3 separate regions of the Homo sapiens genome follow, and regions 1 and 2 are each linked to region 3. The links come from fine-mapping of genetic effects on gene expression. A gene starts in region 3. Each other region holds a variant in brackets. All regions are shown on one strand. Distances are between the middles of the regions.

Region 1 (10,312 bases), 880 kb before region 3:
CTAACCTCTGCTTTCCATGACCCTTGCTTGGAGGAGGAGATGTGTGTGCGACAGGCAGTGTTAAATAGCCCACCGGCCTCCATCTGGTGCTGTTTCCTGACTGCTCAGGGAGATCATCCATGGCTTAGGACCAGTGGGGACACTGTTGACTTTGTGATATATGTTTTGGTCAGGAACCCCTGGCTGTCTGCAGCCCTCACCCTGCCTGCCTTTTAAGGTGAGTTCCCAATACCAGGCAGGGCTCTGGAAGGCAGCTGTCCAGGAGTACCTCATCCCAACCATGAGGACCTGAGGAGGGTCATTTAGCCTTTCTGAGCCTCCGTTTCCATAGCTGTAAATCAAGGATAATAATAATGCCTGACAGATAGTAAGCATTCAATAATTTTTATTTTTATTTATTTATCTTTTTTTTGAGACGGAGTCTTGCTCTGTTGCCAGGCTGGAGTGCAGTGGCGTAATCTCGGCTCACTGTAACCTCCGCCTCCTGGGTTCAAGCAAGTCTCCTGCCTCAACCTCCCAAGTAGCTAGGACTATAGGTGTGCACCACCATGCCTGGCTAATTTTTGTATTTTTAGTAAAGACAGGGTTTCACCATGTTGGTCAGGCTGGTCTTGAACTCCTAACCTCAGGTGATCCACCTGCCTTGGCCTCCCGAAGTGTTGGGATTACAGGCATGAACCACCACGCCCAGTCCTTCATTCGTTTTTTCTTAAGACAGGGTCTTGCTCTGTTGCCCAGGCTGGAGTGCAGTGGCGCAATCATAGCTCACTGCAGCCTCAAACTGGGGCTCAAACGATCCTCCCACCTCAGCCTCTTGACTAGCTAGGACTACAGGTGTGCACCACAATGCCTATCTAAGTAAAGAAATGTTATGTATAGACCCAGGTATCCCCTGTATTGCCCATGCTGAGCGCTCAATAATTGTTGCCTATTGTTAGTTGAAGTACCAGGTTGCTTGTTGAGGTCACAGAGGGGTCAACCAATTGTCACCCTCTTCTAGCTTGGCCCTAGATGGCCTTTTTTAGCGTGTCCAAGAGAGGAGGGTCATCTACCCTGCAGACAGTACTCCACTCAGAAAGGCTACAGACCCCTCCCGGCAGACCCCTCCCGGCAGAGCCAGCCCCCTTTCCTGCCAGGGGGATGGCAGGACAGGAGGCCTGGCTGGGGAGGTGGTGGGGCTGTGGCAGCAGAGAGGGGAGGCAAAGGTTGGCAGAGTGGGGAGAGATGGCCTGGGGGGAGAGCAGCGGAGTCGCTGGGGAGAGAGGGAGGCTGTTGCGCTATAAATACCTTCCAGGTAACAGGACCCATAAATGAAGGGAGGGAATTAGTCACATTCTGCAGCGCCTCAGAGAGAGGACAGGGAGCAATGACCTGAATCCACGGAAGGAAAAAAATTAGGCTAACCTTGTTGGGTGAGGGGGAGGTTAGGGGCCGGATGCTGTGCCTCCTCAGTGGGGTGCCTGAACAGGCTCTGCTGGGCGGGCCCAGGGAGGAATAACCCTGGCAGGAGGGGTCTGGAAGAAACATCTTGTCTATTCCCTCCAGATGTGTGAGGTGTGTGGGACTCTTCCTTTTCTTCTCAAGGATCTCCTGGCCTCTCTCTGAACCTCACACCCATTCCTCCTGGGAAGTCCTTCCAGGAGTCTAGCCCAGTTGTTCTTCACGTCACTCTGAAGCATGTTTTCATTCACTGCGCTCACTGTCTTTAAGCCCTGGCTCCCCCTGGGGTGCCCACCTTGTCAGGCATCTAGCTCTGGGGTCATTCCCTGGGTTCCCAATCAGGCAGAAGGATCTTTGCCGGGGAAGGCAAGAAGGCCGTGTCCTACTTCCACTCTGGACTCAAGCCGAGTGGGCCCACTTGTCCCTTGCTGGGATGATGACCATGGCCTGTGCTCTAGTCTCCTAGCTCCAGCTTCACCTGCCCTGGGCCAGCCCCTCACCCCCAGGGTTGCCAGAGCAATAGTCAGGCATGCCCTCCCTTGCTCACACCTTCCCTGCTCCTCTCGGAATGGAGGCCAGTCCCCTCGGCCTGGCACAGCGAGCCTCCAGGATTGGCCTCCAAGCAGCTTCCTAACCACATCTTCTGCCTTTGCTCTCACACCCAGCCTGCCAGTCTACATTCTCCAGGTCTTTGCACCAGCTGTTCTTTCAGCCTAGTGTTCCTGCCTCTTGCTATGCCTGGTCGACTTGCGTTTTCTCCCAAGACCCGAGCTTGAGTCTGAAATTCTCTCTGCTGCCTCCCCAGCTGAGTTGGGTCCTCCCTCATCTGTGCTTCGGAAATTCTCCAGCAAAGGTAGTCTGGGGAAGTCACCAAGATCCAATTGGGAAGTCCAGCTCTGCCTCACCCTGACTACATGGCCTCTGGTGAATAGATGAGCTCTCCTGTGCCTCAGTTTCCCCATCTGTGAAAAGGAGTTCTCACAGTGCTTCCCAAGGGTTTTACAGTTTAGGCAAGATCCTGCATGAGGAGGGCTGAGCACACAGTCAGCGGGTGGCTGTTGTTGGGGTCACAGTATTGATCACACTGTTTCTGTGTCTGCCTCCCCTGCGGGCTGCGAGATGGGGAGGGAGGGGGGCAGTGCAGCGTCCCCGTGTGACTTGTCGCCGCCACAACCGCAGTGGCCAGCTCGCGCCTGGCACTGAGACCGTAAGCAAATGTTTGCTGAATTAATGAGTGGGGGCTGCAGGGAGGGCTTGGGCTGCAGTTCCGCCTGGGCTGCTGCAGCTGGGGCGCGTACGTACATCCGTGTGCCCCTGGGAGTGTGAGTGAGGGGCGCCTGTGGGTGGGGGAGCCATATCCGTGTCCCGGGGGTCTGGCGGCGCCGTGGGCAGCCTGGCGCGCCCGCTCCCTGGGGTCCCCGCCGAGCGCCTGCCTGGCTGCGGGACCCCGTTGCCAGGAGCAGTCAGGATGCGGCAGCGTCTCCATGGCAACGCGGCATCTCGAGCCGCGCGCCGCCCTCCCCCGGCGCCCCGCAGTGGGCAGGAGGCCGAGCCTGGCAGCCCCTCCCGGCCCAGCAGCCAGCAAGCTGGGCCAGGAGGCCGAAACCTGATGGGAGGGGCTGAGCAGGGGGCTCCTTATTTTCTAGGGATAAGGGGCTGACCTGCCTTTACTTCCCACCTCATCTGGGGGAGGTAGATAATAGAGCCTGTCCTCTGTCTATGAGCAGCACCCTCCACACCCGCCAGGAAAGCAGGAATAGGTTCTGGTCAGGGCAGGATACCCTCACTGGCGAAGGGACATTTCTGATCTAAGTCCTGGCTGTGAAAGTGGCGCTGTTGTGAGGGGCACTGAGGCACAGCCAGGGAAGTGCCATACTGTTCCAGGGCTTCAGTGTGACCCCAGTGACTTCCATGACCCACCCGATGTCCACCCATGTCCCCACTTCTCATAGATAATGCCCAGTACCTGCCACGAACCCTTCCAACGCCCCCTCACCCTCTCAGTTGTGCCATATCCCCAGACCCACTCAGTACTTCCCACTGCGGGTTCCGTGACCCTCCCACCCCTGGTTCCCACTCAGTGCCCCTTCTGCTCGCTATCTTCACACTGCCTTCCAGTTCTTCCCAGCACACAATGTCTCCAGTTGTTATTCAGTACCCCCAGTGCCTACGCAGTGGTACTTCCAACATGCACTCAGGGCCCCCGTTACCACCAGGAAACCACCCAGCGCCCTCTTTCCAGTTTAGGCTTGGTACCACTTAAATAGCCCCCAGGGACCACCCACTGCCCCCAGTACCTGCCCGGTGGCCCCCAGTGCCCTCCTATTAATCGGCCCAGTACCCTGCACATCCACTGTAGTTCCCCACCTCTTCGTACTTCTGTTCACCTAGTGCTAACCACTACAATCTCGTTCTGCCCAGTATATTCCCACCATGCAGCCCCTTGCCACATTATTTCCAGATAAATCCCCATTCGCCCCCTTGCCCACCTCCCACCCTCCAAGCCCAAGCTCCGCCGGGCCGCAGTGCTCGCAGCGGCCAGGAGGGGGAGAGAGCGAGTAGTCAGCAGGAGACCGAAGCGCGGGGCGCGGCTGGGGAGAGGGTCGAGGGGCAGCATCCAAGGCCGTCTTCTTACAAGGGCTGAATCCGAGCCCAGGGTGCGGCTGCGTTCCGGGGGGGTTCCTCCCGGAGTGACCGCACCCCTGCCCCGCATCTTCTGCAAACCCCTCCGGGTCCGCCGCCACCGCCGCCGTCGTGGCTTTGGCTCTGAGAAGGGGCGCGCGCCCTCTGGTGGCTGCTGAGCAGTACAGCTTCCTAGGCCGATGAGAGGACGCCGCTCTGGCCCGGGGTGGTGCGTTCGTTCCCTCTCTCTTTCCCTGTCCTCCTTTTTTGGGCCTGTCCTCAAGCTGGCGGCGATGGGGTGACGGCAAGCCAGGCCCCTCTGTGGTGGCTGGGTAGAGAGCCTGGGGTCTGGATGAAGGGAGAACATTGGGTAGGGAGGTGTGGAACCAGGGCCTGGGGAGAGGGACCGCGGAGCAGAATGGTGGTGGGGGTGGATCGCTGAGTCCACAGATGAAGGACTAACAGATGGATCTGAACTCAGGAAGTCTACAATCTGAGCTGTGATTCGATGTGCTGTTTGTAGAAGGGGGCGATACAGGATTGGTGGCAGTAGGGTGAGGCCTCCCTTCCAGGCCTGGCAGTTCTATCTGGCCCTAAGCCTTTCATGGGATACTTGTTGATGGACCTACCCTTCGATGACTCTGTTTCTGCCTCTGCCCGTCTACCAGCGCCTAGCCTTCTTTTCACCTGCCTGGGCCTGTTTCTCAGTCTTCAGCAGTCCTGGAATGGTGGGGGGCACCCTCTCCCTGTCCCACAATATGGGGTTTTCTCTCCTCTGTGTATGGGGGAAATGGATGGAGCTAGAGCAGAAGGGACCCAGGTTAGACTCTTGCAGTCTGTCCTGAGTTTAGGTGACCTTGGCCTGTAGGACCCTCCATGGTTAGATCTGTGATTTTGTGCCCATTCCAGCAGCCCCACCTCGATGGATTAATAAGTTCCCTTAGACTTAAAGGTCCTTAGAGATGCCTCCTCCATCCTCGCCATTGCCTGGCTGGGGAAACTGAGACACCCAGCAGGTTAAGAATTGCTCTAGGGCGAATAGAGGGGTAGGCATCAGGATAGTAAGGTGATAAAGAGCACTGACTGGCCTGGGTTTGAGTCTGGGCAAGTCCCTTC[C/CTTCTCTCTTTCT]TTCTTTCTTTCTTTCTTTCTTTCTTTCTTTCTTTCTTTCTTTCTTTCTTTCTTTCTTTCCTTCTTTCCCTCTTTCCCTCCCTTCCTTCCTTCCTTCCTTCCCTTCTTTCTTTCTTTCTTTCTTTCTTTCTTTCTTTCTTTCTTTCTTTCTTTCTTTCTTTCTTTCTTTCCTTCTTTCTTTCTTTCTCAGAGTCTCGCTCTGTCACCCAGGCTGGAGTGCAGTGGCACAATCTCGGCTCACTGCAAGCTCTGCCTCCCAGGTTCACACCATTCTACTGCCTCAGCCTCCCGAGTAGCTGGGACTACAGGCACCCGCCACCTTGCCCAGCTAATTTTTTTTGTATTTTTAGTAGAGACAGATTTCACCGTGTTAGCCAGGATGGTCTCGATCTCCTGACCTCGTGATCCGCCTGCCTCGGCCTCCCAAAGTGCTGGGATTACAGGCGTGAGCCACCGCACCCAGCCACCATCTTTCTTTCTTTCTTCCTTTTATTTTTATTTTTTAAAGACAGAATCCCACTCTATTGCCCAGGCTGGAGTGCAATGTCACGATCTCAGATCACTGCAACCTCCACCTCCCGGATTCAAGGGATTCTTATGCCTCAGTCTCCCAAGTAGCTGGGATTACAGGCATGCACCACCATGCCCAGCTAATTTTTGTATTTTTAGTAGAGACGGGGTTTCCCCATGTTGGCCAGGCTGGTCTCGAACTCCTGATCTCAAGTGATCTGCCCACCTCGGCCTCCCAGAGTGCTGGGATTACAGATGTGAGACACGGCATCTGGCCCCTCCTGTCTTTGTAAGCATCAGTTTTCTTATTTATAAAATGAGGATCAAAACTCTACCTACTTCCCAGGAGAGCTGTAAAGATTCAGTCAGATGAGGATGATATTGGAGAGAATAATAACAATGATTGGAGCTGTTAATAATGTTAACTGAGCACTCACTTTGTGCCAGGTGCTGTGCAAAGTGATTCAGCACATGCAATCCAAGAGGTTATATACCAGCTTGACAGAGGTAAGGCTCTTGCTCAGAGGCTCTCAGTGATGACCAGCTCACAGGCAGAGTGACAAAGCCCCTACCAGGTCTAGTGCCTGACCCCAGGGCACCAGGATGAGTTCCAGAGTCCTCTGCCTCAGCTAGGGCTGGAGGCAGAGAGAGGGACAAGAAGACCTTGAGCTGTCCCCTGTGCAGTGCTCCCCTGTCCCCTGGGCCTGGCTCAGATATCTGGCCCCCCGCCAGGGAGGGCAAAGGGGCTGGTTGATGGAGGTAGCACGTGTCCCAGCCTGGGCAGCTGAACCTGGGGGCCTTGCCCCGGAACCTGGAACCTTTCCTGCAAAGGGAATATCCTACAGCAGGAAGGAAGGAAGTGGGGAGGGGGAGGAAGAGGAGGGAGAAAGGATAGGACAGGCCCCAGCTGGGAGAGAGTTCTCTCCCAGACAGGCCAAGAAAAGAGGACCTCTGGACTCCAGGCTGAGAGGCCAGTGGGCTGGTCACCCTGGCTGCGGTTTAGATGTGTGTAGTGGGGGAGAGGAGGGCATAAAAAGAGAATGTGACCCACTCACTGCCCTCTGTTTCCTCATTTGTGTAACAGGTATAAAAACACCTTCCTTGGCCAGGCATGGTGGCTCAAGTCTGTAATCCCAGCACTTTGGGAGGCCGAGGTGGGTGGATCGCCTGAGGAAGGGAGTTCGAGACTAGCCTGACCAACATGGAGAAACCCCCGTCTCTACTAAAAATACAAAATTAGCTGGGCTTGGTGGCGCATGCCTGTAATCCCAGCTATTTGGGAGGCTGAGGCAGGAGAATTGCTTGAACCTGGGAGGCAGAGGTTGCTGTGAGCCGAGATCAAGCCATTGCACTCCAGCCTGGGCAACAAGAGCAAAACTCCATCTAAAAAAAAAAAAAAAACAACACCTCCCTCCCTCCTGGGCTGGATGGGAGTAAAAAAGTGAGGTCAGGAATGTAAAGAGCCAATCGGGCCTGCAACATGGTGGGTGCATCATGCCTCTCAGTCCCTCCACCCTGGACTAACTGTCTGATCTGTAAGACAAGACAGTAGCTCATGCAGAGTCCAGACTCCCACAGCCTGTGAACTCATGCGTTCAGTCAACAACATTATTGAGCACCTACTACGTGTTGGGGTCTGGGGCTATTGCCCTGAACAGGAGCCAGTCCCTGCCCTCATGGAATTCTGTCATTGGTGGAGGGTAGGGGAAGATGAGTCACCAGGCAGTGATGTTGGAGAAGCACAGGGCCTGTGACCCAGCCTGGTGGGTTGGGGAAGACTTCCTGAAGGAGGTGATATTCATGCCAGGACCCAGAGGGAGTGTGCATAGTCTGAAGAAGGAGCATGGTGGGAAGAGGGCTCCAGGCAAAGGGAAGAACAGGCACAGAGCCTAAGACCCAGGGCAAGCAGGGCTACGGCTGCAGCAGAGCAGGTGGCGGCGGGGGTTGGGGGAGAGGAGGACGGGCCTCAGGCCTCAGGGATAGGGCTGTGGGTATTTTCCTGACAGCAAAAATCCAGAGAAGCTTCTAGACAGGGGTGGCATGGTCAGAGTGCGATAAGTCCCAATGGAGGGCACTCAGGGCCTCCATGTGACCTGCTACCTCTATGCCCTCATCTCTCCCAGCTCCTCTGTGGGGGGCAGCCAGGCTGTAGCACTTGTGGCTCCTCAGGCTTCCCACCTTCCTTCATTATAAAGACTTCTCCCCTGCCTGAACTGCCCTCCTGTACTGAACCTCACCTATGGGCAGGGGACTGTGGTGGCTTGAGTTCTCATCTGTCCAGCACTTGCCCAGCCCTTCAGGGACACACCTTTGTTCCCTAAAGGTGAAGTGAGTCATAGATGCCCCACCTTCACCTCCTACCTGGCCATGGGTGGCCTTGTGACCCAGGCTGGGTCAGTCATTGCACTTCGGACTCAAGACACTGATGGTGGCAGTGGGGGGCAGTGCCCTGAGTTGGGCCAGCCACAGTCCTCCTTGGAAGTTTCCATCTGGCTTGCGGTGAGGGTGGAGGTGGGGCAGCTTCATTGACGTGGGGTCACACAGGGCCCCATGCTCACCAGGGCCTGCTTACCTTAATGCTCTGCTGTAGCTGTCTTGAAATGTCTCATAATTTCATCTTTGAACTTGTGTTTTGTAAGTGGGGTCCAGTGGGACAGTGGAGCATGCGGTACACAGAGAGGTAGAACCTGGGTGTCATGCGGGCCGGCTGGGGCTCCTGTGTGCATGCAGTGCTGGTGATGCCCGTGAGCACAGGATTCTGATGACCCCACCACATGTGGGGGCTCAGCAAGACTCAAAGTGAGTGTAAGGTAAGCTTGTTATGTCTACAACTGAGTAAGAGGAACGCTGACAGCCCTGAGGGACCTCACCATCCATTTCAACCAGAACTTGCCAGATGCAAGAAGAAGGCAATTGTGTGCTAAGAAACATGAACAGGGCCTGTCTTGGTGACTCACGCCTGTAATCCCAGCACTTTGGGGAGCTGAGGCAGGTGGATCTCCTGAGGTCAGGAGCTCGAGACCAGCCTGGCCAACATGGTGAAACCCCATCTCTACTAAAATACAAAAATTAGCTGGTCGTGGTGGCAGGCGGACTATAATCCCAGCTGCTCAGGAGGCTGAGGCAGGAGAATTAGGAGAATTGCTTGAACTGGGGAGTCGGAGGTTGCAGAGAGCTGAGATCGCGGCACTACACTCCAGCCTGGGCAACAGAGCGAGACTCCGTGTCAAAAAAACAAACAAACAAACAAAAAAACATGAATGGCCCAGGAACCCTGCTATAGCCTTCTTCCTCATGTTATTTCGCTGGATAAGCCAACCGCTGACACTAATCATGATGAGCTAGGACAGGGACAGATCAGGCAACCTGTAGTTCCTTTCCTTTCAGCCCCTCCTCACACATCATAAGCTAAAAGCAGAGCATGTTGAGAGAATGTGCATAAGTCAAGAAAAGAAATGAAAACAGTTGAGTAAGTTTTGTGCCCTTTCCCACCATTTCAGGTAAGATGAAATACACATGTGTGCACAAGGTACTGAATACAAATTATACGATTTTGATGATTCTGCATATGAGTTAAACACCCTTATATTTGCATTTAAAACTGACATTGCACAATAGAAAGATGAATAGTAAAATTCATGCTAGTCATTTAGATTTTTCATTTTTCTTTACTTAAAATGATATTTAACAAATACAAACTCATGACAAATCTAGAGGCAGACCAACAGAAAAGAAGCGAAGCTTTATATATCTCTAGGTACAGATACATAGATACTTTTATATTTTAGCGCCTTTATTATTAGGCATTTCCCTCCTGCTTTTTGAACAAGAAGCTCCACATTTTCATTTTGTGCTGGGTCCCATGTTGTGACTGGCCCGGGTGGCGGAGTCTCTATTTTAGGGTGAGGAATTGCGGGCCTGGGGACCCGGGGCTGCCCCACCCCTGGGCACTCCCTCTGTGGTGGAGCCGCCGTGGTGGGTAAGGCCCTGAATAGCCTGAGCGCAGGAGTGCAGGCAGGAAGCAGGCCTGCTTTCTTTTCTTTTCTTTTCTTTTTTTTTGAGATGGAGTCTCACTCTGTCGCCCAGGCTGGAGTGCAGTGGCACAATCTCGGCTCACTGCAAGCTCCGCCTCCTGGGTTCACGCCATTCTCCTGCCTCAGCCTCCCGAGTAGCTGGGACTACAGGCGCCCGCCACCACGCCCGGCTAATTTTTTGTATTTTTAGTAGAGATGGGGTTTCACCGTGTTAACTAGGATGGTCTCGATTTCCTGACCTCGTGATCCGCCCACCTCGGCCTCCCAAAGTGCTGGGATTACAGTCTTGAGCCACCGCGCCCCGCAGCCTGCTTTCCTTTCTATAACATTCTTCCCAGCTGGTGCAAGGTCTGGCTGTCCCTGGAGTCTGGCTCTCTCCCTGGTGTGCCACAGGCTATTTAGGGTCTGGGGCAGTGTAGCGCATATGGGGAAGTAAGTTCTCTCAGACTTCAAGATGCTGTTGCCCCTGGCCTTGGGGGGCATCTTCACTGACCACTGGGCTGCCATCCAAGGACCACGGTCCAACCCCTTCCAAGGGCAGGGCCTGCAGAGGGGCCTCAGAAACGGTGTTGCGGGACTGGAGATGGGCT
Region 2 (10,312 bases), 110 kb after region 3:
GTTCAACTCTGATTTTGGTTACTTCTTGTTTTCTGCTAGTTTTGGGGTTGGTTTGCTCCTAGTACTGTAGTTCTTTTTTTTTTTTTTTTTTTTGAGTTGGAGTCTCACTCTGTCACCCAGGCTGGAGTGCAATGGCAGTCTTGGCTCACTGCAACCTCCACCTCCCGAGTTCGTGTGATTCTCATGCCTCAGCTTCCTGAGTAGCTGGGATTACAGGCTCACACCACCATGCCCGGCTAATTTTTGTATTTTTAGTAGGGATAGGGTTTTGTCATGTTAGCCAGGCTGGTCTCAAATACCTGACCTCAAGTAATCCACCCGCCTCAGCCTCCCAAAGTGCTGGAGTTGCAGGCATGGACCACTGTGCCCAGCCAAGACCTGTCTAACTTTTTGATGTGGGCATTTAGTGCTATAAATTTTCCTCTTAACACTGCCTAGCTGTGTCCCAGAGATTCTGGTATGCTGTAACTTTGTTCTCTTTGGTTTCAAAGAACATCTTGATTTCTGCCTTAATTTCATTATTTAACCAAAAGTCATTTATGAGCAGTTTGTTTAATTTTCATGAAATTGTATGGTTTTGAGCTAGTTTCTTAGTCTTCATTTCTAATTTTATTGCATTGTGGTTGGTATAAGAGTAGTTGGTATAATGTCAGTTCTTTTGCATTTGCTGAGGATTGGTTTACATCTAATTGTATGGTTGATTTTAGAGTACGTGCCATGTGACAATGAGAAGAATGTATATTCTGTTGTTTTTGGATGGAGAGTTCCTTAGATGTCTATCAGGTCCATTTGATCCAGTGCTGAGTTCAGGTCCTGAATAGCTTTGTTAATTTTCTGACTTGATGCTTAGTCTAGTACTGTCAGCGGGGTGTTGAAGTCTCTCACTATTATTGTGTGGGAGTCTGAGTCTCTTTGAAGGTCCCTAAGAACTTGCTTTATGAATCTGGATGCTCCTGTGTTGTGTGCATACATATTTGGGTAGATCTTCTTATTGAATCTTTTACCAAAATATAACGCCTTTCTTTGTCTTTTTTGATCTTTGTTGGTTTAAAGTCTGTTTTGTATGAGATTAGGACTGTAACCCCTGCTTTTATCTGATTCCATTTGCTTGGTAGATTTTCCTCCATCTCTTTATTTTGAGCCTACGGATGTTATTGTGTGTGAGATGGTCAGATGAAGACAGCATACCTTTAGGTATTGCTTTTTTATCCAGCTTGCCACTCTGTTCCTTCAATTGGGGCATTTAGCCCATTTATATTCAAGGTTAGTATTGATATGTGTGGATTTGATCCTGTCATCATGTTAGCTGGTTATTATAGATACTTGTTTGTGTGGTTGCTTTACAATGTTACTGGCCTGTGTACATGAGTGTGTTTTTGTAGTGGTTGGTAATGGTCTTTCTTTTCCATATTTAGTGCTTCCTTCAGGAGCTCTTGTAAGGCAGGTCTGGTGGTAACGAATTCCCTTAGCATTTGCTTGTATGTAAAGGATCTTACTTATGTTTCGCTTATGAAGCTTAGTTTAGGTGGATATGATATTCTTGGTTGGAATTTCTTTTCTTTAAGGATGTTGAATATTGGCTCCCAATCTCTTCTGGCTTGTAGGGTTTCTGCTAAGAGGTCCACTGTTAGTCTTATGGGCTTCCCTTTGTAGGTGACCTGACCTTTTTCTCTAACTGCTTTTAACATCTTTTCTTTCACTTCAACCTTGGGGAATATGATGATTATGTGTTTTGGGGATTATCTTCTTATGAACTATCTTTATTGGGGTTCTCTCATTTCCTGAATTTGAATGTTGGCCTCTCTAGTTAGGTTGGGGAAGTTCTCATGGATGATATCCTGAAATATGTTTTCCAAGTTGGTTCCATTCTTCCCATCTCTTTCAGGGACACCAATACATCATAGCTTTGGTTTCTTTACATAACCCCATATTTCTTAGAGGTCTTCGTCTTCCTTTTCATTCTTTTTTTATTGATTACTGTCTGACTGTCTTATTTCAGAAAGCTAGTCTTTAAGCTCTGACATTCTTTCCTCAGCTTGGCCTGTTCTGCTATTAATACTTGCAATTGCACTATGAAATTCTTTTTTTTTTTAAATTCTTATAGTGTGTTTTTTTAGCTGTCATGTTGGTTATGTTCTTTTCTATACTGGCTATTTTGTCTGGCAGCTTCTGCATTGTTTTATTGTGATTCTTAGCTTCTGTGGATTGTGTTTCAATGTAGTCCTGCATCTTGATTATCTTCATTCCTATCCGTATTCTGAATTCTGTTTCCATCATTTCAGTCATTTCAGCCTCTTTCAGAACTCTTGCTGGAGAGTTAGTGCAGTCGTTTGGAGGAATAAAGGCATTCTCACTTGTTGAGTTGTCAGATCTTGTGCTGGTTCTTTCTCATCTTTGTGGGCTGATGTTTCTTCAATCTTTGAAGTTGCTGTCCTTTGATGGGTTTTTTCTTTTATCCCATTTGATGACCTCAAGGGTTTGATTGTGGTATAAGGTGGGTTCAGTTGACCGGCTTTGTCTCTGGAAGATTTCAGGGGGCCAAGGCTCAGCTCACAACTCCTGGACTACGTGCTCTAACTCTAGGGGACCAATACTGGACCCCAACTTTGTTTTCTGGCTCCTTGAGGTTAGGAACTCACTGCACTGGGTAGACTGAGGTGCTCCTGCATCTTTGGTTTCAGCATTCCTACAGGTGGTGACAGTCAAAGCATTTCATAAGGCAGTGGCAGCGGGGTCCATCCTCATTTGCATGTGCCAGAAGCAGCATGGCAGGGTACATGCTTATTGGCTGTAGCCTGGTGCTCATGGGTGTTCGGGCATTCATAACAGTGGCAGAGACAGCATGGCTCAGGGGTTGGGGTCCCTGCTGGTGACTGACTGCGTGTGTGGTTTGCTGGTGGTGGTGTTAGCATGGGGGCAAGGTGCTGGCAGGTGCAGGACTGTGTGCACCTTCTGTGTGTTTTCATGTAGGTGGAGGTGGTCACTTAGGGCAGTGGAGGGTCCACTCTTCTCTGCCTAGTTTCACTCTGGTGACAATGTTGGTGCTGGGGCAGGGTGCTGGTGGTGGCTGGGCTGCACTCTGACTACAGTGGAAGTATGATGGGGGAGGTGGTGGAGTGGACTGCACTTACCCCAGCAGCAGTGGCAGCAGAGGGTTCATGGGCACACACATGCTGGTAGGACAGGGAAGGTAAAATCCACCCATGCACATATACTCCAGCAATATAGGGGTGGTTGTGGGCCTGGAGTGAGGGGAGGGAGTGGGTGGGCTGGTGCAGTCTGCCAGCGCAGGAGCTATGATGCAGCCCCCCGAGGGCACTCGAGGCTGCATTGCAAGCAGGTGCAGCCAGGCTGGGGCCCTGCGAGAGGTCAGCAGGCAAAGGGGTGCTCACGTCAGACTGGCCTCATTTGGTGGGCAAGACTGCCCTGAGAGCTCATGTCCAACAGTTCCCCTAGGGCTAAAGTCTCTTATGGGAGCAAATCAAGCCTAGGGGGATGGGCATCCCTGATTATGCTTCACTACAGACATTACCACAACAAACCCTCTGGGCTCTGCACCAGCTGGAGTGCTTCCCCTACCACTTCTCTAAGCAGCTCTCCCTGCCAACTCAAGTGTCCATGGTGGTTGAGGGGTCTCCTCCTGCCCAGATTCCAGAGGCATGTGGTGAGGGCAGGTTGCTCCTTTCCAGTTCAACTTGCTCCTTCCCCTGGAGTAATTGGGGGCTTTTTTTCAGGTTTGATATCGGAGTAATGCTGGCCTCGCAGAATGAGTTTGAATGTATTCTCTCCTCTTTAGTATTTTGAAATATTTTGAGAATAATTGGTATTCTTCTTCTTTTTTTTTTTTTTTTTTTTTGGGACAGAGTCTTGCACTATCTCCCAGGCTGGAGTGCAGTGGTGCGATCTCGGCTCACTGCAAGCTCAGCCTCCCAGGTTCACGCCGTTCTCCTGCCTCAGCCTCCCGAGTAGCGGGGACTACAGGCGCCCGCCATCACGCCCGGCTAATTTTTTGTATTTTTAGTAGAGACGGGATCTCACCGTGTTAGCCAGGATGGTCTCGATTTCCTGACCTCGTGATCCACCCGCCTTGGACTCCCAAAGTGCTGGGATTACAGGCATGAGCCGCCGCGCCCGGTTTTTATTCTTCTTTAAATGTTGGTAGAATTCAGTAGTGAAACTACCAGGTATTGGGCTTTTCTTTGATGGGAGACTTTTTATTACTGATTCGATGTCCTTACTCATTATTGGTCTCTTGAAATTTTTTTATAACTTCATAATTCAATCTTAGTAGGTTGTATGTGTCCAGGAATTTATCTGTTTCTTCTAGGTTATTCCATTTGTTGGTGTAAAATTGTATAATAATGTCTTATGATCCTTTTTATTTCTGTGGTATCAGTTATAATGTCTCCTTTTTCATTATTGTTTTGTTTGTCTTCTCTCTATTTTCCTTAGGTAGTTTAGCTAACTGTTGGCTGGTTTTATTTTTTCTCAAAACACCAACTCTTAATTTTGTTGCTCTTTTGTATTTTTTTCAAGCCTCTATTTCATTTATTTATATGCTGATATTTTTTAGACGAGGCCTCACTCTGTCACCCAGGCTGGAATGCAGTGGTGTGATGTTGGCTCACTGCAACGTCTACTACCCAGGCTCAAGAGTTCCTCCCACCTCAGCCTCTTGAG[C/T]AGCTGAAACCACAGGCACCTGCCACCACGCCTGGCTATTTTTTTTTTTCATTTTTGGAAGAGATGGTGTTTCACCATGTTGCCCAGGCTGGTCTTGAACTCCTGTGCTCAAGTCATCCATATACCTCAGCCTCCCAAAGTGCTGGGATTACAGGCGTGAGCCACCTCATCTCACCTAAATTATGACCTTTATTACTTCCTTCTCCTAATTTTAGATTTAGTTTGTTCTTGTATTTCCAGTTCCTTGAGGTATAATGTTGGATTCTTTATTTGAAACCTTTCTTCTTTTTGAATGTAGGTGTTTATAGCTATAAACTTTTCTCTGAGAACTGCTTTTGCTGTATCCCATAAGTTTTGGTGCATTGTGTTTCCATTTCTATTTGTCCAAAAGGGATATTTAAATGTCTTTTAATTTCTTCATTGACTCATTGGTTTTTCAGGAGCATATTTACTCTCTATGAATGTATAAAGTTTCTGAAGTTCCTTCTGTTATTGATTTTTAGTTTTATATCATTGTGGTCAGAAGAGACAATTGATATGATTTCAATCTAAAATTTGTCAAGGCTTGTTTTGTGGCCTAACATATTATCTATTCTGTTAAATATTTTATGTACAGTTGAGAAGAATGTGTATTCTGCAGCTGTTGGATGGAATGTTCTGTAAATGTCTGCTAGGTCCATTTGGTCTACAGTGCAGTTTAAATCTGAAGTTTCTTTGTTGATTTTCTGTCTGGATGACCTGTCCATTGCTGAAAATGGATAGCAAATCCCCCTAATATCATTGTATTGCAGTCTTGTTCTCCCTTTAGATCTATTAATATTCGCTTTATATATTTAGGTGTTCCAATATTGGATGCTTTTGTATTTACAATTGTTATATCCTCTTGCTGAATTGAACTTTTATTATTATATAATGACTTTCATTGTCTCTTTTTAGAGTTTTTGACTTAAAGTTTATTTTATCTGATGTAAGTACAGCTATTCTTGCTCTCTTACAGTCTCCATTTGCATGGAAATTCTTTTTTTTTTTTTTTTTTGAGACAGAGTCTTGCTCTGTCGCCCAGGCTGAAGTGCAGTGGCATGAAATTATATTCATTAAGGTGAAGATAAAATGTGCTTTGGCATAATGAAAGAGTAGAACAGATTAAGAGAATCAGAAATCTGTGAGAGATGGGATGAATGTCACAATATTAAAGAGCTATATAGAATAATCAGGATAGACTTCATTAAGAAATTATATCTAACTTGAAGGATGTGAGGGAGTTAGCCAAGCTGTTTTCTTGGGGTAAAACATTTAAGGCAGAGGGAAAAACTACAGCAAATGCCCTAAGGAAGAAGAATGCTTATTGTGTTCAAGGAGTAGCAGAGACGTCTGTGTGCTTGGATCAGAGAGATAATAATTATTAGGAGGAAATGAGGCCAAGGTGGTAATAAAAGAAACAGATAACTTGGGTTTTCTTTGTCACTGTAAGTCTTTGCTTTCCTGAGGGAAATAGGAAGCTAGAGCTACTCTTTTTGGCACAGGAGTGATGTGGCTAAAGGATTACTCTGGCTGCCATATTAGAAATATGATGTAGGAGGAAAGGGTAAAAGCAGGAGGATACAATAAGAGCTATTTCAGTGACCTCAATGAAAGGTTATAATAATTTTGACCAGGGTGGCAGCGGTGGGGAAAATAAAATAATCAGATTATGAATATTTTTTCAAATGTTGAAAAATATCAAACCCATGGAAAACTTACAAAAACAGGACAATGAACGTTTATATAGTTGGTGAATCTAAGCTACCATTTGCCACATTCTTTCTCTCTCTCACTATGTATATTCATTTGGAGATATATGGAATAGATCTGTATCTATTTATATCTATCTATAGATACACACACACACTCACACACAGAGAAAGACTGTGTATGGTAAAATGTTAATTGTTAAATGCTTTTTACAATGTTAAAAGAATTTTACAGCTATTAAATCCTTTTACCTCATATTGAAACACTTCAGCATGTAACTCTCAAGAACAAGAATATACACCTCAAAATGGCAGCATGATGATTAAATTAGAATATTTAATCTTATTATAATTTGACTATCTAATATGCTGCCCATATTAAAGTTTCACAGATTTTCCAAATAATATATTTGATGGAATTTTTTTCTCTGACTTAGAATCACACATTGCACTTAGTTCCTAGGTCTGTTTAGCCCTATTTAATCTGAAATGGTTCTTAGCTTTTCTTTATTTTTGAAGATATTAACAAATTTTAAAGGGTACAAAAACCAATAGTTTTATAGAACGATCCTGAGTTTTAGCTTGTCTGATTATTTCCTTATAATCGCAGCAGAAATTAATATTATGACTTCTCAGTATAGCACATTGGAAGATACATAATGTCAGTTTGTCTCATTATTGGTGATGTAACTTGATTAGTGTTATGTTCACCAAGTTTCTCAACTGCAAATATACCATTTTTTCCTTGTAATTAATAACTAATTTGTAGGGAGATACATTGAAACTAATCACCAATAAGCTTTTACCCCAATGTTTTAGTATTTGTTGAAGATTCTTGTCTGAATCAATTATTCCTATGATGATTAAAAAATAGTAACTTTCAAATGGTCATTTATTCTACATGTATTAATTGGCATTCTTCTGTAAAAAATGTTCCCATTTCCCCTACCCCTGTTTAAGCCATATTTACATCTGTTCATATTAATGTATTCATTAGTATCCATTATTAGTCATTATTATATGGATTCTGTTTTATGCATTTTGTTATAATGCATTACTGTCATTATTCACTGTGGTATTCAAACTGTATCATATTTTTCCAGTGGGAGACCCTTCACATGTTTCCTGTGGTGTTTTTACAAGTATTCCCATAATTTTTGAGCAGTTTCTTACTTTCTGAAGAAAAAACAGATATTCGTTTCTTCTTGCACTTTTGTCACCACTATCCTGAGGTGAGTAATTTCTCCCAAAAGCCCTGTTTCCTTTTAGTGACGAGTGGTATTTATAATCTATATGTACTATTAATATACAGCCTTAGTGCCTAGCACATAAGAAGTGCTTAATACATACTCTTGAATACACAATTATAATGAGATTTATGTATTTGTTTTTGCCTTATGTTTGAAGTTTCATTTTAAAAGTCCTTTCTTGCCCCTATGTTTTAAAGGTATCACCCTATATTTCCTTCTATCAACATTATTGCTTTACCTCCATATTGTGTTTAATCTACTTGGAGTCCACCTTTGATTATTATGGTGTATACACACACATACCACACACACACACACACACACACACACCCCATATATATATTTTATGGTAATACCTAATTGGCCGAATCTTCCATCTTTCCACTTCATTTGTAATGCTGACATAAAATTTATTGATCTTTATGCTTCTTTTTTTTATTATACTTTACGTTCTAGGGTACATGTGCACAACGTGCAGGTTTGTTACATATGTACACATGTGCCATGTTGGTGTGCTGCATCCGTTAACTCGTCATTTACATTAGGTGTATCTCCTAATGCTATCCCTCCCGCCTCCCCCCACCCCACAACAGGCCCCAGTGTGTGATGTTCCCCTTCCTGTGTCCAAGTGTTCTCATTGTTCAATTCCCACCTATGAGTGAGAACATGCGGTGTTGGTTTTCTGTCCTTGTGATAGTTTGCTCAGAATGATGGTTTCCAGCTTCATCCATGTCCCTACAAAGGACACGAACTCATCCTTTTTTATGGCTGCATAGTCTTCCATGGTGTATATGTGCCACATTTTCTTAGTCCAGTCTATCACTGATGGGCATTTGGGTTGGTTCCAAGTCTTTGCTATTGTGAATAGTGCCGCAATAAACATACGTGTTCATGTGTCTTTACAGCAGCATGATTTATAATCCTTTGGGTATATACCCAGTAATGGGATGGCTGGGTCAAATGGTATTCCTAGTTCTAGATCCTTGAGGAATCGCCACACTGTCTTCCACCATGGTTGAACTAGTTTAGAGTCCCACCAACAGTGTAAAAGTGTTCCTATTTCTCCACATCCTCTCCAGCACCTGTTGTTTCCTGACTTTTTAATGATCGCCATTCTAACTGGTGTGAGATGGTATCTCATTGTGGTTTTGATTTGCATTTCTCTGATGGCCAGTGATGATGAGCATTTTTTCATGTGTCTGTTGGCTGCATAAATGTCTTCTCTTGAGAAGTGTCTGTTCATATCCTTTGCCCACTTTTTGATGGGGTTGTTTGTTTTTTTCTTGTAAATTTGTTTGAGTTCTTTGTAGATTCTGGATATTAGCCCTTTGTCAGATGAGTAGATTGCAAAAATTTTCTCCCATTCTGTAGGTTGGCTGTTCCCTCTGATGGTAGTTTCTTTTGCTGTGCAGAAGCTCTTTAGTTTAATTAGATCCCATTTGTCAATTTTGGCTTTTGTTGCCATTGCTTTTGGTGTTTTAGACATGAAGTCCTTGCCCATGCCTATGTCCTGAATGGTAGTGCCTAGGTTTTCTTCTAGGGTTTTTATGGTTTTAGGTCTAACATTTAAGTCTTTAATCCATCTTGAATTAATTTTTGTATAAGGTGTAAGGAAGGAATCCAGTTTCAGCTTTCTACATATGGCTAGCCAGTTTTCCCAGCACCATGTATTAAATAGGGAATCCTTTCCCCGTTTCTTGTTTTTGTCAGGTTTGTCAAAGATCAGATGGTTGTAGATGCATGGTATTATTTCTGAGGGCTCTGTTCTGTTCCATTGGTCTATATCTCTGTTTTTGTACCAGTACCATACTGTTTTGGTTACTGTAGCCTTGTAGTATAGTTTGAAGTCAGGTAGCATAATGCCTCCAGCTTTATTCTTTTGGCTTAGGATTGTCTTGGCAATGCGAGCTCTTTCTTGGTTCCATATGAACTTAAAAGTAGTTTTTTCCAATTCTGTGAAGAAAGTCATTGGTAGCTTGTTGGGGATGGCATTGAATCTATAAATTACCTTGGGCAGTGTGGCCATGTTCACGATATTAATTCTTCCTATCCATGAGCATCGAATGTTCTTCCATTTGGTTGTGTCCTCTTTTATTTCGTTGAGCAGTGGTTTGTAGTTCTCCTTGAAGAAGTCCTTCACATCTCTTGCAAGTTAAAAACTCTCAATAAACTAGGTCTTGTTGGGACGTATCTCAAAATAATAAGAGCTATTTATGAGAAACCCACAGCCAATATCATACTGAATGGGCAAAAACTGGAAGCGTTCCCTTTGAAAACTGGCACAAGACAGGGATGCCCTCTCTCACCAATCATATTCAACATAGTGTTGGAAGTTCTGGCCAGGGCAATCAGGCAGGAGAAAGAAATAAAATGTATTGAATTAGGAAAAGAGGAGTCAAATTGTCCCTGTTTGCAGATGACATGATTGTATATTTAGAAAACCCCATCATTTCAGCCCAAAATCTCCTTAAGCTGATAAGCAACTTCAGCGAAGTCTCAGGACACAAAATCAATGTGCAAAAATCACAAGCATTCCTATACACCAATAACAGACAAATAGAGAGCCAAATCATGAGTGAACTCCCATTCACAATTGCTTCAAAGAGATTAAAATACCTACGATCTTTATGCTTCTTTTAAAGTTTTAGATTA
Region 3 (10,312 bases):
CCTCCACTCTCCCTCAGCACATGCTACAAATGTTGCAACCTGGCCCAAAGCTCAACCCTGGGGTCGCTGTGGAGTTTGCCTGGTGCCTTCATTACATCATCTGCAGGTAACAGGGCAATTGGGAAAGTACCACAGATCTTCCCTGGGGCTCCCTTCCATGACATTCAACTCTTTGAACTTGTGTCTGGAATTGCTATAGTGAGTTTTCCTCCCTCCACTGTCTTCTCTTTTTGGAGCCCAGGAGACCCACAGACCTTAGCTGTTTCTCTTTTTTTTTGAGACAGTCTCACTCTGTCACCCAGGCTGGATGGAGTACAGTGGTGCGATCTCAGCTCACTGCAACCTCTGCCTCCCGGGTTCAAGCGATTCTCCTGCCTCAGCCTCCTGAGTAGCTGAGACTACAGATGCGTGCCACTATGCCCGGCTAATTTTTGTATTTCTAATAGAGACGGAGTTTCGCCATGTTGGCCAGGCTGGTCTCAAACTCCTGACCTCAGGTGATCCACCCACCTCAGCCTCCCAAAGTGCTGGGATTACAGGCATAAGCCACCACGCCTAGGCAACTGCTTCTCTTCTTAAAGGTGGAATTGACTATATACCTAGGGACTGCTTGCTTCCTGTTGCCCAGCCAGGTCAGCAATCCTCTGCTCATTGGCCATGGGGCTCTGTCTACTCTGGGGTTGCTGCTGTTGGACTTGGCTGGGGCTGTCCAGAAAACCGAGGATGCAGGACTGGAGCTGGTAGGTGAAGATGTCAGGTGAAATTCTGGGAGATGTTTCTTGATACTCTGGAATGCAGGTAACCTCTTCCTTCTTACACCTGACCCCCCAATTTGTCTTTGCAGCTGGCATGCCCCGTGCTTCGATGTCTAAGCAACCTGCTAACTGAGGCAGCAGTGGAGACTGTGGGAGGGCAAATGCAGCTCAGAGATGAGCGTGTTGTGGCAGCCTTATTTATCCTTCTGCAGTTCTTTTTCCAGAAACAGCCCAGTCTGCTCCCTGAGGGCCTTTGGCTCCTCAACAACCTCACTGGTACGCACCATAATCTGCCCAGGCCTGGACATTTGGATAATGGGGATATTTCCTCATGGCCTAGGCTGAGGTGGGTAGTATTGACAGGGGTGGTGGGGGAAAGCAGTTTTTCACCCTGGTACTTCTCTTCCAGCAAACAGTCCTAGTTTCTGTACCTCCTTGCTCTCCCTGGATCTGATTGAGCCTCTCTTACAGCTGTTGCCAGTATCTAACGTGGTGAGCGTAATGGTATGTATTGGGGTTACTTGAATCCAAGATCTGGTAGTCGGATTGTATGGGACAGCAGTCCTGAGCCCTCAGATGTACCCTTAGTTGAGAGCCAGCAGGTGGTGGTGTGTGGCCTCAGGGCCCAACCAATCTAGGTGTGTGTCCCTTAAACTGGATTATTTATCCTTGGACAAATCAACTAACCACCTTAAGCTTCAGTCTCCTCACTTATAACTGAGGATAATCTTGCATCATAGGGTAGTTGTAGGAGTATGAGAACATGTATGTAGAAGAGCTTGGCATGGTGCCTGGGCATGTGGTCACCATGTCATATATTTTAGCTATTGTTATGATCTTTGTGTTTCATTCTTTGTAGACTATATATGTGTCTATCTGCAGGTGCTCACAGTTCTGTGCAATGTTGCAGAAAAGGGTCCTGCTTACTGCCAGCGGCTGTGGCCAGGGCCCCTGCTTCCCGCCTTGCTGCACACACTAGCCTTTTCTGACACTGAAGTAGTAGGCCAGAGTTTGGAGCTGCTGCATCTGCTGTTCCTGTATCAGCCAGAGGTATAGGTTTCTGGCCCACATCCTCAGTCACCCCTGTTCTGAAGCCACACAGTGGCTCCCTTCCCATCCAGTCCTAACTATAGTTGTTTCTCTGGGCCTGGCTAACCTATATAGGTTCCATGTCAGAAACTTCATCCTCTTGTTGGGGAATGCACCCTCTGGAGTAGGCTGACCCATGAGGCTGTGGGAATTGAGTCTTAGGACACAGAGACCAGGTGTGTTGAATTTTCTTCCCTGCCCCTAGGCTGTTCAGGTCTTCCTGCAGCAGTCAGGGCTGCAAGCCCTGGAAAGGCATCAGGAAGAGGCCCAGCTCCAGGATCGTGTGTATGCTCTCCAGCAGACAGCTCTTCAAGGGTGATCTTGTTTCTCAATGTCACTCATTCCCCTCTCTCTTAACATCAAGCTTGTTTGTCCAGTAGAGCCTTTGGAGATTTAGGACCATAATGAGGTCTCATGTTCTCTGCTCCCACACCTAAGCCAAGACCTTTGGGTCCCAGCTCCTCCCCTTCCACTCAGCACTATCCAGGCAGGAGGACCAAAAGGGACTCAGTGTGGTCTACTTACTCTGGGGCCCTAGAATCCCTGCCCCCCCGCCACCCTTCATGTTTGCTTCAGCAGCTGGTAGCTTTTGATGAGACAGAATAAAGTTTTATTTTTATATTAAGCTACTTTGCCTCAGTGGTTGCACAGTAAGGGGTAGAGGGTAGATGAGGACAAGAACACCCTGAGAAAGTATTTTACAGCACAAGCTTTATGAGGAATAGGAGAACACATTTTTTTCACATTATACTAAGTCCAGCAGAGCCCAGGCTCTGGGGCTGTTGCTCTTAATCCTCAGTGGAGGCTTCAGGCTTTACCACTTAGAACGTTCTCCAGGGCTCTGGTTACCTGATCAGCACTGAAGTTGTTCAAAGGGACATTCGTCTCTTGGCCAAATGCTGAAGAGAGAGAGGGAGGTGTCTTTAACTATTCTGCACCCTGGAGGCTACCAAAGTAAAATAAAAGATCTTTGTCTTTATCTTAGTCTTGTTAAGACAGGAAGAGTATTAAAGAGATATGATCAAAATACATTTGGTATGCCTAGAATTAATACAATAGGTCTCAAACACATCTAGGAAGCCCAAGTCCAAATAGAATTTTGGCTGATTCTGGATGGCCGCAATGGGTTGTTTCAGGGAAGCTTTCGGGGGCACTGTAGGCATTTATTATTAACTACGGTGAGCAATGTATTGCATGGGTCCAGCCTCAGCTGGGAGCCCATTCTCTCTCTTTTTTTTTTTTTTTTTTTGAGACGGAGTCTCGCTCTGTCACCCAGGCTGGAGTGTGGTGGCACGATCTCCACTCACTGCAACCTCCACCTCCTGGGTTCAAGCAATTCTCCTGCCTCAGCCTCCTGAGTAGCTGGGATTACAGGTGCCCGCCACCACACCCGGCTAATTTTTGTATGTTTAGTAGAGACGGGGTTTTACCATGTTGGCCAGGCTGGTCTTGAACTCCTGACCTCAGGTGATCCACCTGCTTCAGCCTCCCAAAGTGCTGGGATTACAGGCGTGAACCACCGCACCCAGCTGGGTACCCATTCTCTAGGCTCCCATAGGCTATCTAACATAATACCCAGCACAATACACTAAAGTTACTCGTGTCTATCTCCTCCTGTAGTCTACTGGCTTTTGGAAGGAGAAGCTTTTTTCCTTCTCCAATTATTAGTGCATGTCTAATGTCTACTGTGTCTCACAGATATCTACTCTGAGAACCAATCTGCTTAAGGTGGTCACTCTCCTCCACCTCCTCCCGTCATTCCCAGGGCACCATATAGTTAAAAGCTGTGATTAAAATCCTGTTATTCAGTATGTATAAACATTTATTGCATACCTACAATGTGTTAGGCAACATGATAGGAAAATTTCATTTTGCAATACATTGCCATGCCAGTCTTAGAGGGGTAAGTGCATTCTAGGAAGGGGAATAAATGTAAAGGCTCAATCCTGTTAAACTCTAGCTGCATCTAAAGTTGCAGCTAGAGTTTAACAATAGTGCAAAACAAAGTTTTGATTCCGTTTTCTAATCTCTACAGTGAGAAAAGAAGAACACGCTTCCTCCTAACTAATGAAGATTAAATGAGTTAGGCAGGGAAGCACTCAGCACAGGGCCCAGCTCTATGTGCAAAATTACTGAGATTCTCACACACTACCTGGACTGACACTGGCTACACGTTATTTGGAGAAACTATATTGACTAACTTCTCTCCTGTCTGAAGCCCATTCTTAACTACAAAAACGTCAGCTCCTGGTCCCTACGCAGGATTCGGTCAGCCTGCATACTTATGTTGCCCGGAATACAACGCATCATATAACCCTGCGAATATAAATTTCTTCATGGAAACAAGATCAACAGCAAGGCTAAAGTCCGAGTTCTAGTTTCTCCACGGGTTTCTGCACGACCTTGGGCGGTCCCTTCTCTTCTCAAACCCTTGTTCCCCTACCGGAGCCCCAGACCCCTGGCGTCCCGCACTCACCGTAGCGGGCCCAGAGCTTGGGCTGCACATCGGAGCATTCGCGGATTAGGATGGGTAGGTCGGGATTCGCCTTCTTCAGCTCCACGTAGCGTTTCTCAATGAAGTCCCTGCGGGGCCGGAGAGAGCGCCGCGCGTGCTGTGGGCGGGGGCTTCCCTCAACTTCAGGGAGGTCGAGGTCGTGACCCTGGCGTCCCGAAGCCCGCCCGCCTCACCACGCCGCGCCTCACCTGACGCCCTGGCTGCCGGGCGAGCGCTGACATAAGTGGATGCGAATCTCACGCAGGCCCAGCTTTGCCCCGACTCCTCGACTTGCTGCGGCCGCCGCCATCCTTGTTAATATCGAAGTCGCCAATTCCAGGTCTTCAGGCCAAGTGCTCCGGTCTGACCAACCGCGGACCCTAAAGCCTAGCCCATAGGCTGCATGAGGCAGGGGCGGGGTAAAGCTTGGCCAATGATATAAAAGTATTGTAGGACCGCTGCGAGGTCAATTTCTTTGCGCTCGGGGTTGGTCGGAGGGAAAAACAGGAAGCGGAAAGGCTGCGAACGCAAAGCAGTGTGGGTTGATTCTGAGGTGCACTGTGGGAAAGAGCTTGTCGCTGCGGTGTTGCTGTTGGAGACTCGATTGTTGGTGACAGCGAAAGAACGATAACAAAATGCCGGAGCGAGATAGTAAGGCTCAGGCCATCCGTTATTTCTTCCCCATGGCACTTGGGGCACTTGGCGCATTATTGTAGCTTCTGAGCTTAAGCCGGGTGTGTGTGTGTGTGTGTGTGTGTGTGTGTGTGTGTGTATGTATGTATGTGTGACGCTTGAGCCCGGAGAAGCCACAGGGTCCTAAGTGAGGCCGACAGCTCCAAACTCCGTCCCCAGTCCTCACTCCTACTCCAAGTGATGATGGGCGGCTTTTGTGCGTGGATCGCTTTCCCCCAGTCCTGTCCCCATACTTAATCCTGGGTTGCGCGTATTTATCTTTTACGTAGTATTTTAGACGTGATCTTCCGGAAGTCTTCTCTGATCCTCCAGCGCAGGATTAGGGTCCTCTGCTTTGTGCTCCCACAGCTTCTTGTAGTTTCCTATTTCAGCACTTATTACATTGTGTTGACACTGTCGCTGTTCTAACTTTTGTTCTGTATTGTTCACTACTATATCTCAAATTTTTGCATAGGATCTGACACGTAAGAGACTGATTAAATTAACGTCAATTTTTTTTGTCAGGTGAGCCGTTCTCCAACCCTTTGGCCCCCGATGGCCACGATGTGGATGATCCTCACTCCTTCCACCAGTGAGTATTTTGTGCTAGGACCATGGAAATGAGTTGGGCAATGAATAGAAAAGTGGTGGTGATGGTGAAAGAATTCTGAATGTCTTGTCATCAAGGATGGTAAAAAATTATACCCGCTGGCCCTTTATCTCTGTGAGCCTTAACTGGATCAGGCCAAGTGCATAAGGGTATTAGAAGGGAAATTCCTGCAGGAAAGGTGTTAAGTTTTTTTTTTTTTTTATACGTGTTGTGTAATTACACATTATATAGGAATTACTTCTTCCAATAGCAAATTAAAACATAGGAAATAAGGGTAAAATCATCTTTTTATTTTTTTTGAGACTGAGTTTCGCTCTTGTTGCTCAGGCTGGAATGCAGTGGTGCGATCTCGGCTCACCACAACCTCCGCCTCCCGGGTTCAAGCAATTCTCCTGCCTCAGCCTTCCGAGTAGCTGGGATTACAGGCATGTTCCACTACGCCCGGCTAATTTTGTATTTTTAGTAGAGATGGGGTTTCTCCATGTTGATCAGGCTGGTCTTGAAATCCCGACTTCAGGTGATCCACCCGCCTCTGCCTCCCAAAGTGGTGGGAGTACAGGCGTGAGCCACCGTGCCTGGCCCCCGATAAAATCATCTTTGATAACATCCCCAATTCCAGTCCATTTCTTTTTTTTTTTCTTTTCTTTTCTTTTCTTTCTTTTTTTTTTTTTTTGAGACGGAGTCTCACTGTTACCCAGGCTGGAGTGCAGTGATGCAATCTTGGCTCACTGCAACCTCTGCCTCCTGAGTTCAAGCGGTTCTCCTGCCTCAGCCTCCCAAGTAGCTGGGACTACAGGCATGTGCCACCATGCACGACTGATTTTTTTTTTTGTATTTTTAGTAGAGACAGGGTTTCACTGTGTTCGTCAGGCTGGTCTTGAACTCCTGGCCTGAAGTGATCCACCCGCCTCAGCCTCCTAAAGTGCTGGCATTACAGGCGTGAGCCACCGTGCCCAGCCTCAGTCCTTTTCTTAGAAGTAACCACAGTTACCTTTTTTGGCATATCTTTTCCTCCCGTTGCCCAGGCTGGAGTTCAATGGCATTATTTCTGCTCACAGCAACCTTTGCCTCCTGGGCTCAAGCAATTCTTCTGCCTCAGTTTCCCCAGTAGCTGGGATTACAGGCATGCCCCACCATGCTTGGCTAATTTTTGTATTAGTAGAGACAGGGTTTCGCTATGTTGGCCAGGCTGGTCTTGAACTCCTGACCTCAAATGATCTGCCCGTCTCGGCGGCCCAAAGTGCTGGGATTACAGGCGTGAGCCACTGCGCCTGGCCCTCCTACTCTTTTTTAAATGCATTTATACACATACATGCATATCTGAGGAAAACACAACATTGCTTTGTGATTTAAAATATTTGAGTTAAATGATATTATGCTGTATATATCATTTTTGCAACTTGCTTCTTTTTAAACCCTGCTCAGTGTTTCTGAGATTATCTTTCAGAGCAGTGACAAGCATTCCCTCCTTGGCTAAACTTTAGTCAGGTTCCCCAAAGAGTCCCATTTTTCAGCAGGACTCATCCGTGGCCTGCTGAGCACAGTTTTAACAAAGAAATCAACCACCGCTCCACCCCCATACCTAACCAAGTTGCTTTTAGTAATTTTCTATAAATTCTCACTTGTCCCTGTTGTATTCGGAATTAAGTTCAGTCTCTCTACTCTATTACAATGGTCTTGACTCTTGTTACAGTAGTCTTCAATAAAGTCTTCCTTGGGGAGAAGAGGAACTTGATTAGATATCAAGTTGGATTGGATATCAAGAGTGGGAAAACTTTCTGTGAACTGACTTAGGATTCCTTTTTAAAACTGAGGTCAGCAGGCCAAGGAAGAGCCCTAGTCAGAAGAGAGCTTTAAAGGAGTCTGACTTTAATTTGATCAAGAGAGGAGTCTTTGTTAGTGTACCAATTAAAATAATCTCTTGTACCATTAGTGCTGTCTTTCCCTCTTTGGGAAACACCATCATAGTTTAGTCAGTCTCCAGCTAATAAACGCTTAGTCTGTTTCAGACTGATTCTTTTCTTTTTTTTATTTTTTTGAGACAGAGTCTTGCTCTTTTTGCCCAGGCTGGAGTGTAATACCTAGATCTCGGCTCACTGCAAACTCCGCCTCCCAGGTTCAAGCGATTTTCCTGCCTCAGCCTCCTGAGTAGCTAGGATTACAGGCGCCCACCACAACGCCCAGCTAATTTTTTTGTATTTTTAGTAGAGATGGGATATCACCATGTTGGCCATGCTGGTCTTGAACTCCTGACCTCGGGTGATCCGCCTGCGTCAGCCTCCCAAAGTGCGGCGATTATAGGTGTGAGCCACTGCACCCGGCCAGACTGATTATTTTCAAGGCTATAACTGAATTAAATTTACAGGCCTTCTTATATACATATGTCAGTAATGGACCAGGCTAAATATAAATAAATGGAGTTGCTGGCTCATAGGATATATATACTTAAATTTTAACAAATACTGCAAAATTGCCCTTCAAATTGGTTATACTGGTTTACATTCTCATCAGCATTATATGAGAGAGTCCCCTTCCCAAATTCTCACTCACACTTGATTTATCAAACTTTCTGGTAGTTAACACTCTGATGCATTAAAAGTGGCATGGCATATCTGGTCGGGCGTGGTGGCTTACACCTATAATCCCAGCACTTTGGGAGGCTGAGGTGGGCAGATCACCTGAGGTCAGAAGTTTGGGACCAGCCTGGCCAACACCTCTAATAAAAATACAAAAATTAGCTGGGTGTGTTGGCGGGCACCTGTATTCCCAGCTACTTGTGAGGCTGAGGCAGGAGAATTACTTGAACCCAGGAGGCAGAGGTTGCAGTGGGCTGAGATCATGCCACTGCACTCCAGCCGGGGCAACAGAGGGAGACTCTGTCTTAAAAAAAAAAAAAAAAAGCTGGGTGCGGTGGCTCATCCCTATAATCCCAGCACTTTGGGAGGCCGAGGTGGGTGGATCACAAGGTCAGGAGTTCAAGACCAGCCTGGCCAATATGGGTGACAGTGAGACTCCGTCTCAAAAAAAAAAAAACAGTGTCATATCTTTGTTTTAATTTGTATTTCCCTGATTTCTGTTAATTTAATCATGATTTTTACTTGTTCCTTTTTCATTTCTTATTGAGTCCTAATATTTAAAATCTTTGCCTTTTCTTCTAGATCAAAACTCACCAATGAAGACTTCAGGAAACTTCTCATGACCCCCAGGGCTGCACCTACCTCTGCACCACCTTCTAAGTCACGTCACCATGAGTAAGTCTTTGGGTGATCCAACCTGTCTCCCAACTTGTTTCTTGCTCCTTCCTATTTCTTTCTACTAAGTAGAATGACTTTTAATAGTCCCTCAGGTATTTATGATACTCTCTAAAGTTTGAGAACTGCCCACCTACAAATATTGGTGTGGATTTCTGCTTGATTGAAAGTGTTACTTTGATCAGTATTCTAGGTCTTTCTAAAAATCCTCAAGGAGACTTCTTGGGGTTTCTGGGGCTGTGGCAATATTTTGCTATCAGTGAATTTCTCGTCTCTTCTAGGATGCCAAGGGAGTACAATGAGGATGAAGACCCAGCTGCACGAAGGAGGAAAAAGAAAAGGTGAAGGAAGGGTGAAGGGTTTTAGATTTTAAGGTGGATAGTGTTTAGGGGAAAGAAGTAGGGGCTAATTATGAAGCTAGAAACTAAGATTTTGTCTTGAGGCTCTCTACTTTCTTAATGAAACAGAGTGATACTTAGAGTGGCAGTAGAGGGCTTTGGAATAGGCCTATCTATATTTTAATCTCATCTTCGCTAGTTTCTTGGTGGATAACCTAGACATTTGCTTAGCCTCTCTAATCCACAGATAGAATGGAGATACAGTAGCAATAATAACTTTTATCAGGATGTCATGAGGATCAGCTGTGAAAGTACATGTAGGCATTTAGCACCAATGCCTGGCATATGGTAACCACCCAATAAATCTTGACGGCCATCATCATTATTATATCATCATCGTTATTTATATGATACGAAAGTTTCAGGACCTGGTACTTGGCTTTTCCTTTATTCTGAGAGTGGACCAGCAAATAATACGTTCTTTTCAGCTGAAATTTAGAAGGTGGTAAAAATTCAGAAGATTTTCTGATTTTTGTGTGGAAAAGTCTTATATCTATAGAGAATTGGTAGAGTTGGGTGGTATTAAAAAGTTCTGAAGTGACAGATGGAGTGTCCCAAGTTGGCACTGGAAAAGTATATCTATAAGCTGGAAGAAGTTGTAGTTCTGATTTTGAGTAACTACGAAGAGGTGGCCAGCAGTTCTATCAGGACAGACATGAGCTTTTCCCCATAGAGAGTAGGTTGGAGATGTAGGGAAGCAAGCAGGAACAGTTCTGTTGACCTTGAGGTAGCAGCTGATGAGCCTTATACATTTGCCTTTCTCTGGTCACAGTTATTATGCCAAGCTACGCCAACAAGAAATTGAGAGAGAGAGAGAGCTAGCAGAGAAGTACCGGGATCGTGCCAAGGAACGGAGAGATGGAGTGAACAAAGATTATGAAGAAACCGAGCTTATCAGCACCACAGCTAACTATAGGGCTGTTGGCCCCACTGCTGAGGCGTGAGTACTGAGGGAACAGGGCATGGTTCCCTCAGCATCCGAGAGTCATGCAAATACAATGTGAACTCTTCCTCTTACTTTCCTGCCCTGGAGCCTACAATAA

Which allele goes with the higher level. Positions count from the first base shown, and alleles are read on the strand shown. Sizes are in standard deviations (SD) of each study's normalised expression. Not every link is listed here.
For the expression in monocytes after LPS of the gene that starts at base 4,695 in region 3, allele C in region 1 goes with a higher level than allele CTTCTCTCTTTCT (large effect, 1.1 SD a copy in Fairfax 2014).

What was found.
Region 1: its variant is fine-mapped to the expression of NDUFA2 in monocytes after LPS (Fairfax 2014, PIP 0.95).
Region 2: its variant is fine-mapped to the expression of NDUFA2 in whole blood (TOPMed, PIP 0.90).

The regions. Positions count from the first base shown.
Region 1 is chr5:139,761,650-139,771,961 of GRCh38, forward strand. It overlaps a transcript of PSD2 not described here. Among named protein-coding and RNA genes, the nearest start is that of PSD2-AS1, 21 kb to the left of the region's middle. RefSeq lists enhancers at 658-1,321, 1,322-1,984, 1,985-2,648. The variant C/CTTCTCTCTTTCT (reference allele first, on the strand shown) is at 5,179.
Region 2 is chr5:140,750,445-140,760,756 of GRCh38, forward strand. It overlaps LOC105378198 (a long non-coding RNA gene), which reads left to right. Exons shown (of 4, transcript XR_001742904.2): 4 at 7,514-7,636. Among named protein-coding and RNA genes, the nearest start is that of PCDHA1, 31 kb to the right of the region's middle. The variant C/T (reference allele first, on the strand shown) is at 4,681.
Region 3 is chr5:140,642,936-140,653,247 of GRCh38, forward strand. It overlaps NDUFA2 (NADH:ubiquinone oxidoreductase subunit A2), which reads right to left and starts at 4,695. Exons shown (of 3, transcript NM_002488.5): 1 at 4,548-4,695; 2 at 4,321-4,427; 3 at 2,350-2,743. The coding sequence starts at 4,648. The coding sequence ends at 2,652. TMCO6 (transmembrane and coiled-coil domains 6) reads left to right here. Exons shown (of 12, transcript NM_018502.5): 7 at 1-106; 8 at 629-740; 9 at 845-1,031; 10 at 1,165-1,259; 11 at 1,638-1,805; 12 at 2,050-2,469. The coding sequence ends at 2,163. It overlaps IK (IK cytokine), which reads left to right and starts at 4,894. Exons shown (of 20, transcript NM_006083.4): 1 at 4,894-4,989; 2 at 5,536-5,602; 3 at 8,779-8,871; 4 at 9,153-9,212; 5 at 10,042-10,209. The coding sequence starts at 4,974. MIR3655 (microRNA 3655) reads left to right here and starts at 4,909; the gene lies at 4,909-4,991. RefSeq lists enhancers at 4,273-4,692, 4,433-4,968.